Linked DNA regions of Homo sapiens: region 1 is linked to region 2. The links come from fine-mapping of genetic effects on gene expression. A gene starts in region 2. The other region holds a variant in brackets. All regions are shown on one strand. Distances are between the middles of the regions.

What was found.
Region 1: its variant is fine-mapped to the expression of ETV3 in whole blood (INTERVAL, PIP 0.97).

Annotation. Positions count from the first base shown.
Region 1 is chr1:157,175,548-157,184,020 of GRCh38, forward strand. LOC107985211 (a long non-coding RNA gene) reads left to right here. Exons shown (of 4, transcript XR_007066653.1): 2 at 7,313-7,705. Among named protein-coding and RNA genes, the nearest start is that of ETV3, 41 kb to the left of the region's middle. RefSeq lists an enhancer at 6,286-6,445. The variant A/C (reference allele first, on the strand shown) is at 5,377.
Region 2 is chr1:157,133,516-157,141,515 of GRCh38, forward strand. ETV3 (ETS variant transcription factor 3) reads right to left here and starts at 4,880. Exons shown (of 5, transcript NM_001145312.3): 1 at 4,801-4,880; 2 at 2,792-2,850; 3 at 1,956-2,193; 4 at 597-712. The coding sequence starts at 2,837. RefSeq lists silencers at 4,618-4,807, 4,652-4,987, 5,038-5,407 and an enhancer at 5,339-5,944.

The DNA.
Region 1 (8,473 bases), 42 kb after region 2:
CAAGACTAGCCTGACTAACATGGTGAAACCCCGTCTCTACTAAAAATACAAAAATTAGCTGGGCCTGCTGGTGGGCACCTGTAATCCCAGCTACTTGGGAGACTGAGGCAGGAGAATTGCTTGAACCCGGGTGGCAGAGGTTACAGTGAGCTGAGATTGCATCATTGCACTCCAGCCTGGGCAACAGAGTGAGGTCAGGAGCTGCTGGTTGTGACCATGCCATTGCTGCCAGCCTTCCTTGCCCAAAACATGGCCTGCACCTTGCCTCCACCCCCATGTAACTCAGTCTCAGTAAAAGTTCTGTGTATGTGAAATGACCTGTGGGACCTCAGCTGAAATGTGTCTGAAAAATGTAGTTTTGAGCTTTTCATCTCCTGCAGTACAGGAAGGCATCCTAGGTCAGGGGCATAATGGGTGTTGGATGAGCCTGTTTATAAAGGGAATGTGCCAGCTTGCCCTCAGAGATCTGCCTGAGCTTGGTTTGATCCCTGGCCAGGGCTTGACACAATGAAGCCTCCCTATGCTTCTGAAAATGTCCAACTTTACTGTCTCATAGTCCCCCACTTTCTTTCCGTCCCAGTCTAACCCTTCACACCTGCACCCACACCTGCTGTCTTGGCTCTGTTCTGCCCTGGTTTCCAAGAAAAAACCCAGTGGATCCAAGAAGGTGCTTGGTCATTGACTTCACTGCAGCTCTGGGTCTATCTCAGGGAGGCATCAGATCTCATTGGCCATAGACAGGCTTCCCCTCTTTGCTGTCACTTTCATGTCTGCCTCCTTCCACAGCCTGAGTCCTGACACAGGACCACCCTCCTGCCTGTGATGCCCTCTGGGCTGGGTGACTCAGTGACCCTTCCTCTAATTAGTTCTCTGAGGGAGCAGCCCGGCCAGGCTTGGTTCCCGTCACGCTGAGATCCTGAGGGTGAGCGCAGATGAGCTGCCCAGATTTTGATTCCACATAGGAAGGATATTCTAACTCTAGAACTTGTGGACTGCCTTTTGCAGTAACTTCCCCATTACCAGGTAGGGGAGTGAGAATCAAACCAGTCTTGAATATCTTCTCTCCTGGGAATCTGTGGAGCAGTTCTGGGTGAGAGCACAGAGTGCACTCAAGGTGACGTGCTTGGGGACACACAGTGGGATGGGAGAGTGGCTGTGATGTCAGCGATGAGTCCTGAGCTTGTGGTCAGGAGTCCAGACCCTGTGCCTTGATTAGCTGTGTGACCTTTCACAGGTTCATAAGCCCTCTGAGGTTTGGGTTTCACATCCATTAAATGGATTTAATACCCAGAAACCTACCTTGAGGTGGTCATGGGGTCAGGCCTGCAGCTCCAGCCTTCGGGGTGTTCTGCCTGTGCAGCCATCGGGGAAGACCAGGTGGGGAAAAGGAGGCGGTGCCTTGGGGTTAGGAAAATGATACTGCTCCCCCAGGGTAACGGAAGGGGGAACTCACAGATGTTGTGGTGTATCTAGGTCTGGAGAGAAGAGGCTCAGCAGGAGGTGGAGAGTTTAAGGCAGCTGAGGCTGTGGCAGAGGGAGTATGCAGCTCTCTGTCCTGCAGGAGCAGGGCTGGGAGGAACTTACAGGGGAAGTCATGGTTCAATCCAGCCATGGCTGAATGGCTTTCTGTAGACTGTCAGCTTCTGTGGGGGTCTGTCCTTACCCTGAGTGTATAGAAAGGTGACTAGCACTAGTGGGAACTGAGAAACCATATGGCCACCAGCAAAAGGTAAATGCCAGGATTTGCAATGGGGATGTGGGGAGTTTACACTATCCACGAGAACTTTGTTCTTTTGCCCATAGCTTCTTACTTAGGCAACTGACAGTTGAAGTTTTTGGAAAATCTAAACAGAAATCTGGCTGGGCACGGTGGCTCATGCCTGTGATTCCAGCACTTTGGAAGGCCAAGAAAGGTGGATTGCTTGAGCTCAGGAGTTCAAGACCAGCCTGGGCCACATGGCAAAACCCCATCTCTACAGAAATTAGCTGGGAGTGGTGGTGCCTCAGTTACTTGGCGGGGCTGAGGCGGGAGGATCGATGGGCCCAGGAGGTTGAGGCTGCAGTGAGACAAGGTTGCACCGCTGCACTCCAGTCTGGGTGACAAAGTGAGACCCTGTCTCAAAAAAATAAAAAAGAAGAAATTTAATTTACTAAATAAGGCAGTGACAAAGGAAAGCCACTGAACTCAGGAGTGGCATAGCCCAGCCTTGCTGTAAGAGGGTGACTTCTGTGCCTGACCATAGGCTGACACTGGTCACCAGGGCCACCTGGGGCAGAGCTGTGAACCCAGGGAAGCATCAGGGGAGGGTGTGGGAGGGAACACCAAGCTGGCTGTGCCCGCAGGGACGGGACAGTCTAACAAACTGCCAGGAACATCACAGAGTGAGGTTGTACTTTCATTTCTTCTGCAATTACTTATTGAGTGTGTGTGGTACTGTAGGGACTGGGAGGGGATGAAAGAGCTGAATGGCTTTCTCTAGACTGGTGGCTGTCTCCCCAGTAGTAACTTGCTAGCCCCACCCTTAAAGTGGGGAAGGGCTCCTGTGCTCAAACTTGTCCTTCCCTCTTGCCTTCGTTTCTTCCTATGTTTCTTCTGCAGCTGAACAAGCAGCAGGCAGCCTGCCATGGGGCCCTGCTCTGGGGCCAGTCCCTCTGCTGGGACTCAGGGCTCCTGGGATTCATCAATCTCCTCCTCAGTGAGTGCAGGGTTCCTGGGAAGGGAGGGCAGTTGGGTGGGGCTGGGCTAGCTGGGTCTGACCACTGGGTGGGCTGTTCAGGTTCCGCTGTCTTTGGGCCACAAAAAGAGAAAACCACTCTGTTATGATTTACAAATGCAGCATATTTGGTTGGAGCCCCAGGATAGAAATAACAAAAAGTCCTTTTGGTGGTGAGGAGGCTGGGAACCCTGAACTAGGGCAGTCTTGGTGGTATTGAGGGAACCTTTACCAGGGAGGTGGGGCCGCTTCTGCTGCAGTAGGAGGGTGGCCTGATACTGCCTGGAAAGAGGGATGGAGACAGACAAACTACCTGCCTGGAAAGAGGGATGAAGACAGACAAACTACCTGTCTCCTGGGGAAGAGAGGGTGGGAACAATACATTCCCAGCCAGGAACTCAGAGGTGCTCTGACGGTCTTTGCAGCTGTCCTGTGGAGGAGGGGCAGAACTAGAACCCTGCTGTCTGAACTGGAAGAAGCTCCTCTGTCCTGGGCTTCTCCGTTGAAAAAGGAGAGTGAATATGAACTCCCCTGCCTGGGCTTGGGGCTCACAGGTCATCACAAAGGAGAGGACACTTGGAGGTCTCAGGTTTATCTTAAAATTGTTTGTGTAATTTGCAATAGTTTTCTTTTCTTTTTTTTTTTTTTTTTTTTTTTTTTTTTGAGATGGAGTCTCGCTCTCTCACCAGGCTAGAGTGCAGTGGTGTGATCTTGGCTCACTGTAACCTCTGCCTCCTGGGTTCAAGAGATTCTCCTGCCTTAGCCTCCTGAGTAACTGGGACTACAGGTGCCCGCCACCACACCCAGCTACAGTAGAGACGGGGTTTCACCATGTTGGCCAGGATGGTCTCGATCTCCTGACCTCGTGATCCGCCTGCCTCAGCCTCCCAAAGTACTGAGATTACAGATGTGAGCCACTGCGCCTGGCCAAATAGTTTTCATTTAAAATATTAACCAGCATTTATCTTTGCCTAAAATGAATACCACAGGAGGATCCCTTTATTGTCCCTGAGAGTTGCCTTTCCCTCCACCCTGAAATGCTGCTCAGGTCCTGGAGGCCGCAGGTGAAACCATGTTTATCACAGCACTGTTGTAGGGAAAAACCCTGGAAAAAAGAGGAGGTGCCCATCAATTCATGAATGATTGACCAAACTGAGGAGTATCTGTACCATGGAATATTATGGAGGCTTACAAAAAGAAATAGTTCAGTTTCCTGGAAGGAGTTTTAAATTTTTTTGAAGTATGAGGTATGGAATCCTAGCAGCAAGTTCAGGAAATGAAACACAATGAAATCCTTACTTTATAAAAGGAAAAGCAGCTTCCAAAATTTAAGGGTTTACATCTTTACAGTCACATGTTTTTAAGACTATATTGGCAATGTGGAAGGAATCAGTAGATTGCTAACATGGGCTACAACAGAGCATGAATTTGGGCAGGAAAAATGGAGGGAGAAAAAGCAGAGAACACAGGGAATTAAGCAAAAAAGGAAACTGAAAGAAAGACTGTCCTAGTCTAGGCTGTATATCACATTCATGACTCTATTTAAGATTATATGTTTGTATATACAATGAAATTAGGTCAAAATTAATGACAAAATAAGACATAGTAAAGATGAATTTTTGTGGAAGTTTTATGGTTATAATTTTTTTTGTTTTAATATTCCAGCCAATACTTGAACTTGCAGGGAATTATATGAAATTGAGCAGATTAGAGAGCATTTGTAAAACAGGATGTCTTGAAAAAACAATGGGCTTAGAAATAGGGCTACGTCCTCTTTACATAGGTAACCTTCTGTAGTCAGCAAAATGTAGGCGTTCTCCACTTCTACAATGTTATTTACCTGGAAATATGTTCAGTTGTATAGAGTTTTCCTTGTAGGCATGGGGGTTGGAAGATTTCTGAAGATACAAAGAAAAATAAAGAAAGAATGGAAGGAAGGAAGGGAGGGAGAGAAAGAAGGAAAGGACTTAGAATTTCTCATTTTAGGGGTAGGAGATCCGTGTCCAGACAAAGAAAGTGATTCTCTCAGGAAATTACTGGGAAAGAATGAAATTGGTTGTCCCAGTGGTGTGGTACTGAATGAGACAAGACCTCTTGCTGTGGAATTTGGTCAGAGGCTGTCCGCAGAAGGAACATCATTGTGAAATTGCTCTGCGTCCTTGCAAGAATCCCGAAGCTCCATAATTGGATGCATTTTTCCTTTGGTTTCTGGATAGTCCTTGTTCCAGTTCACCCTTGACCCAGGGAGGAAGATGGGGATGAAGCAGTGATGATGTAGTGGAAATGAGGAATTTGTCCTCATCATTCTTAAACTCTAACACCCTTCCTGAACATGTGTTTGGATGGGGAAGTGTGGAAGGGAAGGAGGGAGCCTGAGGGTGGCTCAGCTCACATATAATTTCCCAGAGACAGAGGCAGTTGCAGGTGAGGGTGGTCCTTGACTTCTGGGGAGCCCCTGACCATAACAATAACAAGATTTACTGAATGCCCACCCAGTGTCTGCCAGCAGGGAGTTGGAGGAGAAAGGGTCTTTGCATTAGGGGCTCCAGACAGAGACATGAGACAATGGAGATGGTACCAAGAAGCGCAGTTTGGGCATCAAACATGAATTGTTGGTTTGTGAGTGTGGTGATGGGAGCTATGTCAGACAAATGGACTATAT[A/C]TATATATATATATATTTTTTTTTTTTTCTTTTTTGAGACAGGGTCTTACTTTGTCTCCCAGGCTGGAGTGCAATGGTGTGATCTTGGCTCACTGCAGCCTCGACCTCCTGGGCTCAAGTGATCCTCCAGCCTCAGCCCCCCAAGTAGCTAGGACTACAGGTGTGCACTACCATGCCTGGATAAAAATGAACAATCTTTTATGCTGATGACAGGATTTAAAATTTTATACAGTTTAAATGAATGTTTAACTCCACCTTGTAAATGACCACCTGCTCCCTGGCTTGTTTTTTCTTCTTCAGGATTAGCATCTCTGTAGATCAGAGAGCTCCTGCTGCCTTCCTTCCCTCTCTGAATCTTCATCTTCCTCCCTGCTATGCTCATCATCCACCTTCTGGGGCAGATCCTCCCTGGCAGCCTGAGGGCTGAGCCTCCTCTCTTTCTGGTTCCCAGTTCCCTCGTCCAGGAAGTGGGGTCTGTCCAGGCTGCCTGTTTAACCCTCTGCTAGCCAGAAGTCCCTGCTCTGCTCAGCCACTGAAAGTAGCTGCTTCCCCTTTTCAGGAGAGGGCAGTTGGGGTGGAGACCCCGGCAGCTGCTCAGGGCCTGGTGGGCTCAGACGACAGTGCAGCTGAGCTCCGGGGAGGGCAGGTGAGGATGGAAGAGCTCATGGGCAGCGTCCTGCAGGGGAGGCCCTGGGCTGGGGGAGGAAATTGGGCTCCAGGTGTGGCTCTGCCCTGTGTGACTCAGGACAGGTCTACCCCATAGAGAGTGCCTACTCTGTAATAAAAGCAGGAGCTTGGACAGATCATCCTTGAGTCCCCTCTCAGCAGTGAGGTTCTGGGATTTGGTGACTCCTGTGGCTCTATCAAGGTCTCTGCTCTGTCTCCCCATCCTGTCCTGTCCTATCCTGTGGCCTGACGGGCACTGACAGCCAGTGAGCCTATTTCAGGCTTCTTCAGAGAGAAGGCCCTGGGTGTCCCTGTGGCCACTTCCTCAGCCCTCAAGGGAGGAAGGGACTCCTCCTCTCTCAGTCCCCTCCACGTGACCCTCTGCTTTCTCTGCCTCTGCTCCTGAGAGGGGTCTTCGGGGTCAGCCCTCACTCAGGAAGGCCTGCTGCAGCTGTGGCATTTAGAAGCCACTAATACAATCCTCAGCCAGACCTTTTCAGTTTCTGTCTGCTCAGCAGAAAACACTAATTTCTATTTCACTGGTTCCAGGCAATGCTGCAAGAAGTAAGACAAACACTGTTTTGGCCAGAATTATTCCTGAAAATCTGTTAGGAAAGTGCCATACAGGAGACTGGAGTGTTATCTCCCAGCAAGTCTAATGAATGCCCACATTTATCCAGGTGGAAAAAATGGCTGTTTCTTTGAGCTTCAGATTAAATAGAACACTTTATTATTATTATTATTATTTTTGAGATGGAGTCTTGCTTGTTGCCCATGCTGGAGTACAGTGGCATGATCTTGGCTCACTGCAACCTCTGCCTCCTGGGTTCAAGCGATTCTCCTGCCTCAGCCTGCTGAGTAGCTGGGATCACAGGCGCACACCACCATGCCTGGCTAATTTTTGTATTTTTAGTAAAGACAGGGTTTCGGTTTTACCATGTTGGCCAGCCTGGTCTTGAACTCCTGACCTCAGGCGATCCACCTGCCTCAGCCTCTTAAAGTGCGGGGATTACAGGCCTGAGCCACCACATCTGGCCAGAACACTGATGTTTAGTGTCCATTTTTATACCAAAATTGTACAAAATACTTAGACATTACACTCCACAAGAACCAGGACTTGCTCTCAGAATTGCTTCAGACTTGTTGTACTAGCTTTATTCCTAAAATCAAGGGAGTATATTGGATAAATTTTACTAAAATAGAAAGTTCTGTGGTTCTCTCATTTGTTCTTGCTGAGGAAATACTCATGTTTCCTGTTTCCATGCCCTAGGTGTCTGCAGCACAACAGCCAACACTTCTGGAGCACATGGCCCTGCAGTGAAGGATTCTGGAGCTCACATTTGTCTGAAGGGGATCCGAGGAGGTTCTGTGTTGTTGAATGTGATTGAGAAGCTCAGAGTAGATGTAGACGCCGAGCTGGAGGAGGTTGTATGGACTTTGGGTACTCTGTCAAATCATACACAGGTGCTGTGAGTCCACAGGGGGGCCGACTCTCCAACCTGGGTCGGCCTTGAGGAAAAGTTCAAGCAGAGGGTCCATGTGCCTAGCGTGTTGTCTCTGAGGATTGAGAACCTGGCCCCTGAAGACAGTGGGCAGTACATGGCCATGATCCATTTAACTGGGGGACAATTATCTGGCCAGGTTTTCTACCTCACTGTCTATGGTGAGTGACACCCCTCCCTCCCCCATCCTCTGGCTTACCTGCTTTTTTTGTCCCTAGAGTGTCACATAGGCCCCATGCAGGGTTCCATTCAGACACCAGTCTTCAGACTCCATTTTCTCCACTAAAATAAGGCACATGAGGTCCCCAGAGATACAGAGCAGAGCTGAGATTCACAGCAGGAAGAAAATCTCTTCAGTGTTTTGGGACAGGAAATGGAAATTCAGGAAAATAGCAATTTTTCCAATAACATTAATCATCCTATATACGATTAACATTAATTTGTATAGTAGTTTTTTATCGCTAATGTAACAAACTACCAAAAATTATTGGCTGAAGGCAACACAAACTTATTATCTCACTGTGCTGTAGGCTAGAGATGTGACACAAGTATCCATGAGCTAAAATGAAGGTGGTGGCAGGGCTGTGTTCTTTCTCAGGGCTCCGGGGAGAAGCCATTTTCTTGCGTTTTTCACCTGCTAGTGGCTGCTGGCGTCCCATGGCTCATGGCCATCTTCCTGTATTTCCTAATAGAACACTGATGTTAGTGTTTGGGAATTCAGAATCATCTCCCTATTTTAAGGTCAGCTGATTAGCAACCTTAATTCCATCTGGGAACTTAATTCCCCTTGCCTTGCAGCTAACTTATTCCCAGGTTACCAGGATTGGTCCTAAACATTTTGGAGGCCACTGTTCTGCCTACCACAGTTGGGAATCCCTGTGAATGAAGTCCTCCCCTCTCACTCAGCCCCAGCCCAGGGCCAGCCTCAG
Region 2 (8,000 bases):
ACCAGGAAAGTCAAGAGGGGAAGCCCTACTGCACTTAACAGGAGAGAAGGTCAAGTAACCCCAGAATCTTTTTCTCTGAGGATTTGCTGTTGCAGATCAAAGACACTGCTTTTCACTGCAAACATGTGAACCTCCCCCTTCTCTGATCAAGGATGCTGTGGTTTTGATGATATTCACTTGATAAGGGAGAGCTTGGTAGTTTCACAGAAAATCGGAAGTGTTTGTAGAAACAGGTTCCCATCTATGAAAGAACCACTGGGCTGGGTGTTAAAACTGAGTCCTGAACGTAAAGATCATCACAAACCTATGAAACATCATTCCCAAACAAGATAGCGTAATAGTATCTAGGAGATTACAAACAATATGCAGAAAAGGGAACCAACCAAATAAACCAAAGAAATCTATCTTGATACTGAATAGCCTATAACTCTCCTTATAAGTGAGATGACTTGAGTAAGAACATTGAGGCAATCCAAAGGATCACATTATTTTAGTGTTTCTAAAATCTTCCTAAACATGCCATGTCTTAGATTTGGATTTTTAAAAATTCTTTTCAATTCAAAATTAATTCCCTACCAAAAGAGTTTGTATCTTACCACTTGACCGAATGTTGATGAATGGGTAGTTGGGCATCACCAGCTTGTTGAAGTTAAATTTATAGGTAAATCTTTTCCCTTTTGTTTTATGAAGGATCCTCTTGTTGTAATAGTATCTGTAAAAACAGGAATACATGTCCATTCGTCTTGTAGCTACTGACAGCTTTCAATACACTTAGGTAGCCACTGAGACCAACAATTCTTGCTCTGAGTATTACTTACAAAAATCACTACCAATCTTTCGCAGCCTGGCCCTCCAGGTAGATCTAGGAGACCTAACAGCTTAATTTTCTTACTCAATTTTCAACTCAGCTCGTTTTTGCCTAGAGGTTTACAAAGACAACTTCACTTTAAGATTCTGAACACTTATCCTAGCCCCAAACATTTTCTTCTCCATCTCTCTACAATTTCGATTCTACAGTCCATTTCCGTCCGGTTGCACTGCATGTCACTAACTGCTTAGTTTTTCTTTTTGGTCTTGCCCAGGTGGGGGCAGACAAATCACTAGGGAGACCTGATGTGGTTAGTCTGGAGGCCTAAGCTCAAAAGACAGACAAAGGAATGTACAACTGTTTTATGGTGGCAGGTCAAACAATGGCATGCCCTGATCTGGAAAACAGCAGCTAGTGTGGCCCGCCTCACCTTCAAAGACTCAAAGGGATGTGAAAGAATACAGCAAAGCCACTGTACAGAGTTTACATTTCAGGTCAGGAGAACTTCAATTATCTGGAACCTTTAGTCTTACATCTATGCAGTAGCAGAGGTCATAAACTGCCTTCTAGCCCCTTGAGGGCTAAAGGACTATGAAATGTAAGACCGACAAGGGGAAAAAAGAACCTGAGAAAACTTATAGTGATCAATCTTTAGACATATTGCAGCAGGCTATGGACAACCTGAGCTCACAGACACAGTTCCGGAATAGATAGGTCAGTATCACTGAATCTTCCTCCCGTGACTTGCTTCATCCTTTTCTAAGTTTCTTTCAGGGAAGCCCAAAGAAAGAAATTCTAACAGATTCTAATAGAGAAGTCTAAACTAATCCTTTGGATTATAAATGAACTCCAATCCATGTTTCACCATATACTCTCGCCCACTACAGAGCAGAATCAGCTGTCTGTCAGGATCCAGTGCCAGCCACATTGGAATCCCCTCCTACGTATAACCAAAGATATGCCTTTTCTCCTCCTGTGCCTATGCTACTCACATTCAACAGCTCTTCTACTCCCACTTTAAAGTGACACATTATTCACTAAGATAGTGTAGTCTTTTATTACCTGATACCCTTTTTATCTAGCATTCACCAAACAGCTTAGTCTCCTTCCAATCTGTTAACACAGATTTGGGAATCCTTTTCCTTACCTGAGGGCCCGGCTCAGCTTGTCATAATTCATCTGTGGTTTGCATTTCCTGCGGCCCCAGAGGCGGGCCACCTCATCTGGATCCTTGATGACAAATTCCCCGTACTCTCCCTGCTGCCAGGCGATGACATGGCGGAACTCTTCCTTCTGCAGCAGCTCCAGGATGAAGTGCCACAGCTGGATCTGCCGGGAGCCTGGGGATGACTCTGTTTTGTAGGCCCAGTCAGGAAACTGATACCCTTTCATGTGAGAAGGTCAAGATTAAGCTAGTTAAGAGGTAGGTACATACATACCAGCAACCCCAACTGCACATTCCACTGCTCAGAATCTAGAGTGCTTTGCAAACATGCTGTAAGTACTCTCAGTCAGCTGGGCCTAACCACAATGGGGAGAGGAAAGCACAGAGAAGTCACCTATCCTTGTGGCAATCATTAAATCTGATAAGAGTTGGGCAGCAGCAACCAGATGTCCTAAGCTGACCTTTTCATACATTACTAAATACACCTACTTTCTGTGAGGACATAAAAGTGCTAAAGGGAACAAACAGGAAAGATAAACTAATGTTTCAGGAAAATACAGCTGAAAACTCCTTTTCCCTAAGGTTGGAACTGTGTCTCTGACAGCAAAGAGACTCTAAAGCTTAGGATATGGGTGTGGTGACCAGACATGTTAAATATACATCCATAGGAAACAAGCCTACAACTGTCCTGCCAGTATCCACCTAGCCAAGAGAGTGTCAGTCATGGTCTGACATTTGTGAACAGAGCTCAAGTGGAGAGGACAGGAACCACTGAGGGAAGCTTCCAGGTACATCAGAGATGATTAACTTCTGCTCACCTCCACCTCCTTCTGGCTTTTCCACGATGCTACAGCCGGCTTTCATTTTCACCCGCCTGCTGAGAGACACAAGCCACACAATTACTTTAAGATGCTATTTATTTAGTATCCTCTCAAAAGTTTTCTGGCAGTCTCTCCCCAAACTTCCTTTCCCCTGTTCTTCTTTCCGTATGCAACTCTCTTTCTTTCAAACATGTCACCTCCAAACTGCTACTCCCCAAGTTATCAAATGATGGGCCTCAGGTCATCAGCTTCAAAAGCCATAATTATCTCTCACCTGACTTTAAACCACAAAGTGTAAACACTGTCTTTAATATTTGTTTTCCTCCTCCTGACCAACCCTTCAAATGTAAAAAAATAAAAATAAAAAAGGAAGGTACAGTGAAATGGGTCCAAAAACGCAGCCAAAACAAGTCAAACAGTTTGTCTTCTATTACTAGACAAGCCCACATGCCAAGATACACAAGCCTGAGTTCACCAAGATGTACCAGTTTAAAGGATGAAAAAATCCCAAATCCATCTGATTCCCACTCAAGAATGAACATCTGATTTTGATTTATTTTACTGAATTATGTGAGATAGAAGGAAGATTCTTCCCAGCCACAAACTGCTCCCTCCCCCTTGAAAAATACCCTGGGATACAGGAAGTAAACACACCATATGTACATTTACTCTATTCAAAAAACACACACAAACTCTCAAAAATTTTTTGAGAAAAATTATACATTTTCTCCATTTAACAGGAAGGGGTGAAAAGCAGGCATTTCTGAAGCCCTTCTGGCCAGTGAGTGGAAGGAGTCTTGCTGCGATTTGAATTCATTCCATCCAGATTTACAGTTCCTCAATAAATTTCCTGTTCCTCCCAGCAAGGAGCTTTGTGTTAATCACTTAGCAAAAAGGAGGGAGGGGTGAAACTGCCAGAGGGACATGGAGGGAGGGCAGATCTACCCTCGCTGTTCCCCAGGGTGGATGACAGGCCCTCAGCATCCACATTAGCAGGCATCTGGAGAGAATGCCTAAGTGGCCCCCGCGTAGGGACAAATTCCTTATCTTGGAAATTTCACCTAACCTAGGATTTCTCTAGATCTTTTGAATATTTTTTCTCACCAAACACATTAAGGAGACCAGCAAGTGTCAGTCTACAAAACTACTAGCGGCCGAGGACAAGATAAACACCCCAAAGGAAGGAGCAGACAAGGAAAAACACACACACACACACACACACACACACACACTCTCACACACACACGAGATACATAATAACGAGGCACCGGGGCTGAGGCAGGAGCTTCCTCTTCCACCTTAGTGACAATGAGGGAGGAAAAACACGAATTTCCCCACTGCTCCAGGAAGCTGCCCTGGACTCTTAACTCCTAGGATGCGCTGTCAGATCGCGAGGCCTTTTACCCTGCCACAGAACTCCCTCCAACCATCACGACCCTGGGGTCCAAATCCCGTTGCAACGATAACCTGACAAGGAAACCCTCTCTTGACACTCCAGCTCTCCAATTTTCCCCATAAAAGTCCCTTTCCCAGGAGCCCTGGGGCGCCTCTGCACGCCTTTCGCATATTCACTGCAAGGACACTTCCATCCAAGTAGGGCCACTCGTCTCAACTCTGCAAACCACAGGACCCCTGCCCTTCCTCTGATCGCGACCACTCCCCGAAGAGTGAGGCATGCACAGTCTGGCGCTGCGGGTTTCCCGCAGCAGCTCCGGGTCCTGGCTTCCACAGCCCCCAGAACCTCCTTGCCATTCACCTCCCGGGCCGGGCTTCCCTTAACCGTGGCCTCAGGGCTGCGCGGGGCCACCGCATGAACGCTGCCCTGGGTCCCTGTCGCCCCTCAGACAGACACGGGATCCCACCCTCCCCCGCCCCCCGCACTGGGTGAGGCCCAGCTGGGTGGGTACGCGGCCTGGCGGCCGGCCCCGATTCCAGGGACGCCGTCCCCGCCAGGGTCCCGGATCCAACCCAGACACCCCGGCGGCCGAGGCGAGGCCGGGACTCACCTCTTCCCGGCACGGTCCGTCTTCGGTCCGGTCTCCTCCGCGGCGTCTCCGGCTCCTCCTCATCCACCCCAGCAGGAAGTGACCTCCTCGGCTGCTTTCGTCACTTCCATCCTCAGCAGAGAGGGCGGGGGAGGAGGAGGCGCCCTCCCGCCGGTTCCCAGCCTCACCTCGCCGCACCCAGCAGCGTCTCCCTTTCCTTTCTCCTTTCAGCAGACGCCGACTTCCGCCCGCACTCCTCCCCCTGCGCGCTCCTCCCGGCCCGCATCCCGCGCATCCGCCCCGGCACGGCCCGTGCGTCACGCTGCGGGGGCACGTTACGCACGCTCGTGGCGGGCGGCCGGCCCGGTCCGCTGCTGGGCCAGGGTCCTCCAGACGCCGAGGGGTGACGCGGCGCGAGGGGGTGCTGAGCTGCTATACGCTTCCCCCGCCAGTCCTGCGCCGTGAGGCAGAACGGACTTTGCGGGGCGAGGCGCTGCCCCGGGGTCCCACCTCCCGGGGGAGGGGACCTCGCAGACCCCACAGGAAGGCCCAGGCGCCGGGAAACAGTCTCTCCCACACAACAGAGAGGCGGCCCGTCTTTCTCCAGAAATGGGCCCTGCGACCTCCCAGAGTGGGGATCCCTCACAATGGGAAGACGGGACCCGCAGACTTCAGACGCAATTTCCCTACCCTTTAAGAAAGGGCCCTTTCATATACGTATGAAAGAAACCGCAAAGCTTTCTCTGAAGCACGTCGCTTTGGCATTTCCTCCCTGGGAAGACTGGGGGGCATGACCGCTTCCCCGCTAGTTCCCACCCCACTGCATTTAGTCTTAATTCGTCCCAGTCTAAGCAGCTTGCAAGTCCTCTCCCTAAGTCATTAAAACGCGTGTCCCCTTTTGGTTTTACCTTTTGTTCCTGCTCGGGCAATTTGTCTGTCCAAAGCATGATTTTTTCTTCCTTTAGAGGCTCATTAAGGATAAAGAATCTCAAGCAGTTCAGCTTTATCTGCAGTCCCACCCCTGTAAATCTGAGTGGTGTCCAGGCATAGTTTCACTCCAGAGGCAGAAGAAAGGGAGTAGTGAGGATCAGTAAAGGTTAAAGAATTTAGAATAAATACGAGCGTGGGGGAGGTGAAGAAGAGAGATGGGATTGAAGGAGAATTGAAGATCAATTTTGATCAAATGGATCAAAACTTTGTACCTCTGCTCTAGTAAGACCTTTGCACCGTCTCTGCCACATGGGACTTGGAGATATTAGTTGTTACAAAAATTGCTTCCAGTTTTGAATGTGCTACTAGTCACTGTGTAGCTCTTGATAAATTAATTAGTAAATTGGCTCCCTCTGGCCTAAAATTACCTTACCTGTTTTTTAAAAAAGATAACATTGTTGTGTCTTTTCTAGTTAGAACTTCCTACTCTGTAGGTGAACAAAATAAGGAGCAGAACTTAAACACCATAGAGAGGGTTACCGATACCTGCAACTAGTCCACTAGCTCTTTGTAGGAACTGTCTATATATTCTTTGCATCTTGTGCATGGTACCTAGAACGGCAACTTACATGTAGATATCAGATGTTTGCTAGAACATTCCTTTAAAATATTGGGGTTCGGCTAAACGGAAATTAAGTCCTTGTGCCTTCATCTACTAGCTTTGTGACCTTAGTTAAGTGACTTAACTTCTCTGTGTCAGTTCCTCATCTATGTGAACATAATACCTACAGTATCTACTGATGTGATTGTTATTAGATGTGTTAATACATGTAGAGTGGTTAGAACAGAGAATGGTATATTTTAAATATGGCAGATGAAAAATGTTGGCAAAGATAATAATCATAAGAATCATTCTTATGAGAATCCTCAATTTCTCATACCACCCATGCAAATCTTAGTAATTGTTACAACTCAGAAACCAGGGTGATCGGGAATGAGTAGTTTCTTCTGAAAGTCTGAAATTGCTCATCTTTGGCTCATAGCTCAAATGGTCATGGTTAGAGCCAGCATGGTTGACTCCAAGGAGCCTGTGCTCTACAAAGGGCCAGGAGTCAGAGTATAGGGACTCTTTCTGCATATTTTTACTCAAGCCAGACTCCTAGGGTTCTCTGCTGCTGCTTCTCTAATTAACGTCACAAAGGATGTCTTGAGTAAACACAATCAACAGAGATAAACAAGTCTCTCTACCTGGCTGGAGTCTAAATTGATATATTGAGAAATGTTTATATTCCAGCAGAACTCAACATTAAGTTTTTACATTAAGAGTCTAATCACTGGCCTGAAACTCTAGAGGTGAATTTGGGTTTGATGAAGGCAACTGGAGATTACCTAATAATTAGTGGGTCTGAATAAATGAGTTGTGGCTGGGATCCTCTCTTGTGGTGGTAGGATCTGGGGACATTAGGATGGCCAGGGACTAATGGCGCAGCATACCCAATGCCCCTATCCACCATTTCCTTCACCATGGCACTGCTGCCTTCTCCATCTGCTGCAAACAGGTTTTCAAAACGTGGAGATTTTTCATGTTCCTGAAATAGGGAGAGCATGAGCTTTCTGAAAAGCGTGGGGGTGGAAACACTTAAGACACTTAGCATAAAAGTCAAGACAGGTTGTAATCTCTCTTGAATTTCCACTTGCTCAAAGCTGTCTTTGTCCACTGACATTACCTTCCTACCCCCTTCCCGCCCATCTTTACAATTGTTCCATATGTCTAGAATAAGTTTCTGTTCTAAATCTAATGCTCTCAATTCCACTGTCACCACAGCACAGCCATTTCACTGCTTCTTAAATTAAAAAAAGAGAAAGGAAATAATTTCTAAAAGTATTTTTCTTCGGAAAAACCCTTTCTGGATTGTTGTGTGTGAGCGTGTGCATTTCTTCCCTGGCTTGTGCTTCTTTATTGACCCCATTTTCATTTATATGCTCCACACCCTAAACTAACCTGGACATGTATATGATGTGAATGCTTTCCTCTCTACTCTTGTAGTAGATGACTGTCTTATTCTACCATCTGTATGTCACAGAAGTATTTGTTCTTCCTAGTGGGTTTGTCTTAGATTGCAGGCCCTCAGGGGTTACAGCCACAGTCAGTAGGTCCTCACACTGCCCAGAGCAGTTCCCTGTCATCATTTGAGATGTCTCATGATGATAATTTCCTTCTCTGCTATCATGTATGCTGATGGGCTGATGCTGATGAGCTTCTGTCTCCTCCCTCAGTCTCCACTAAGTCT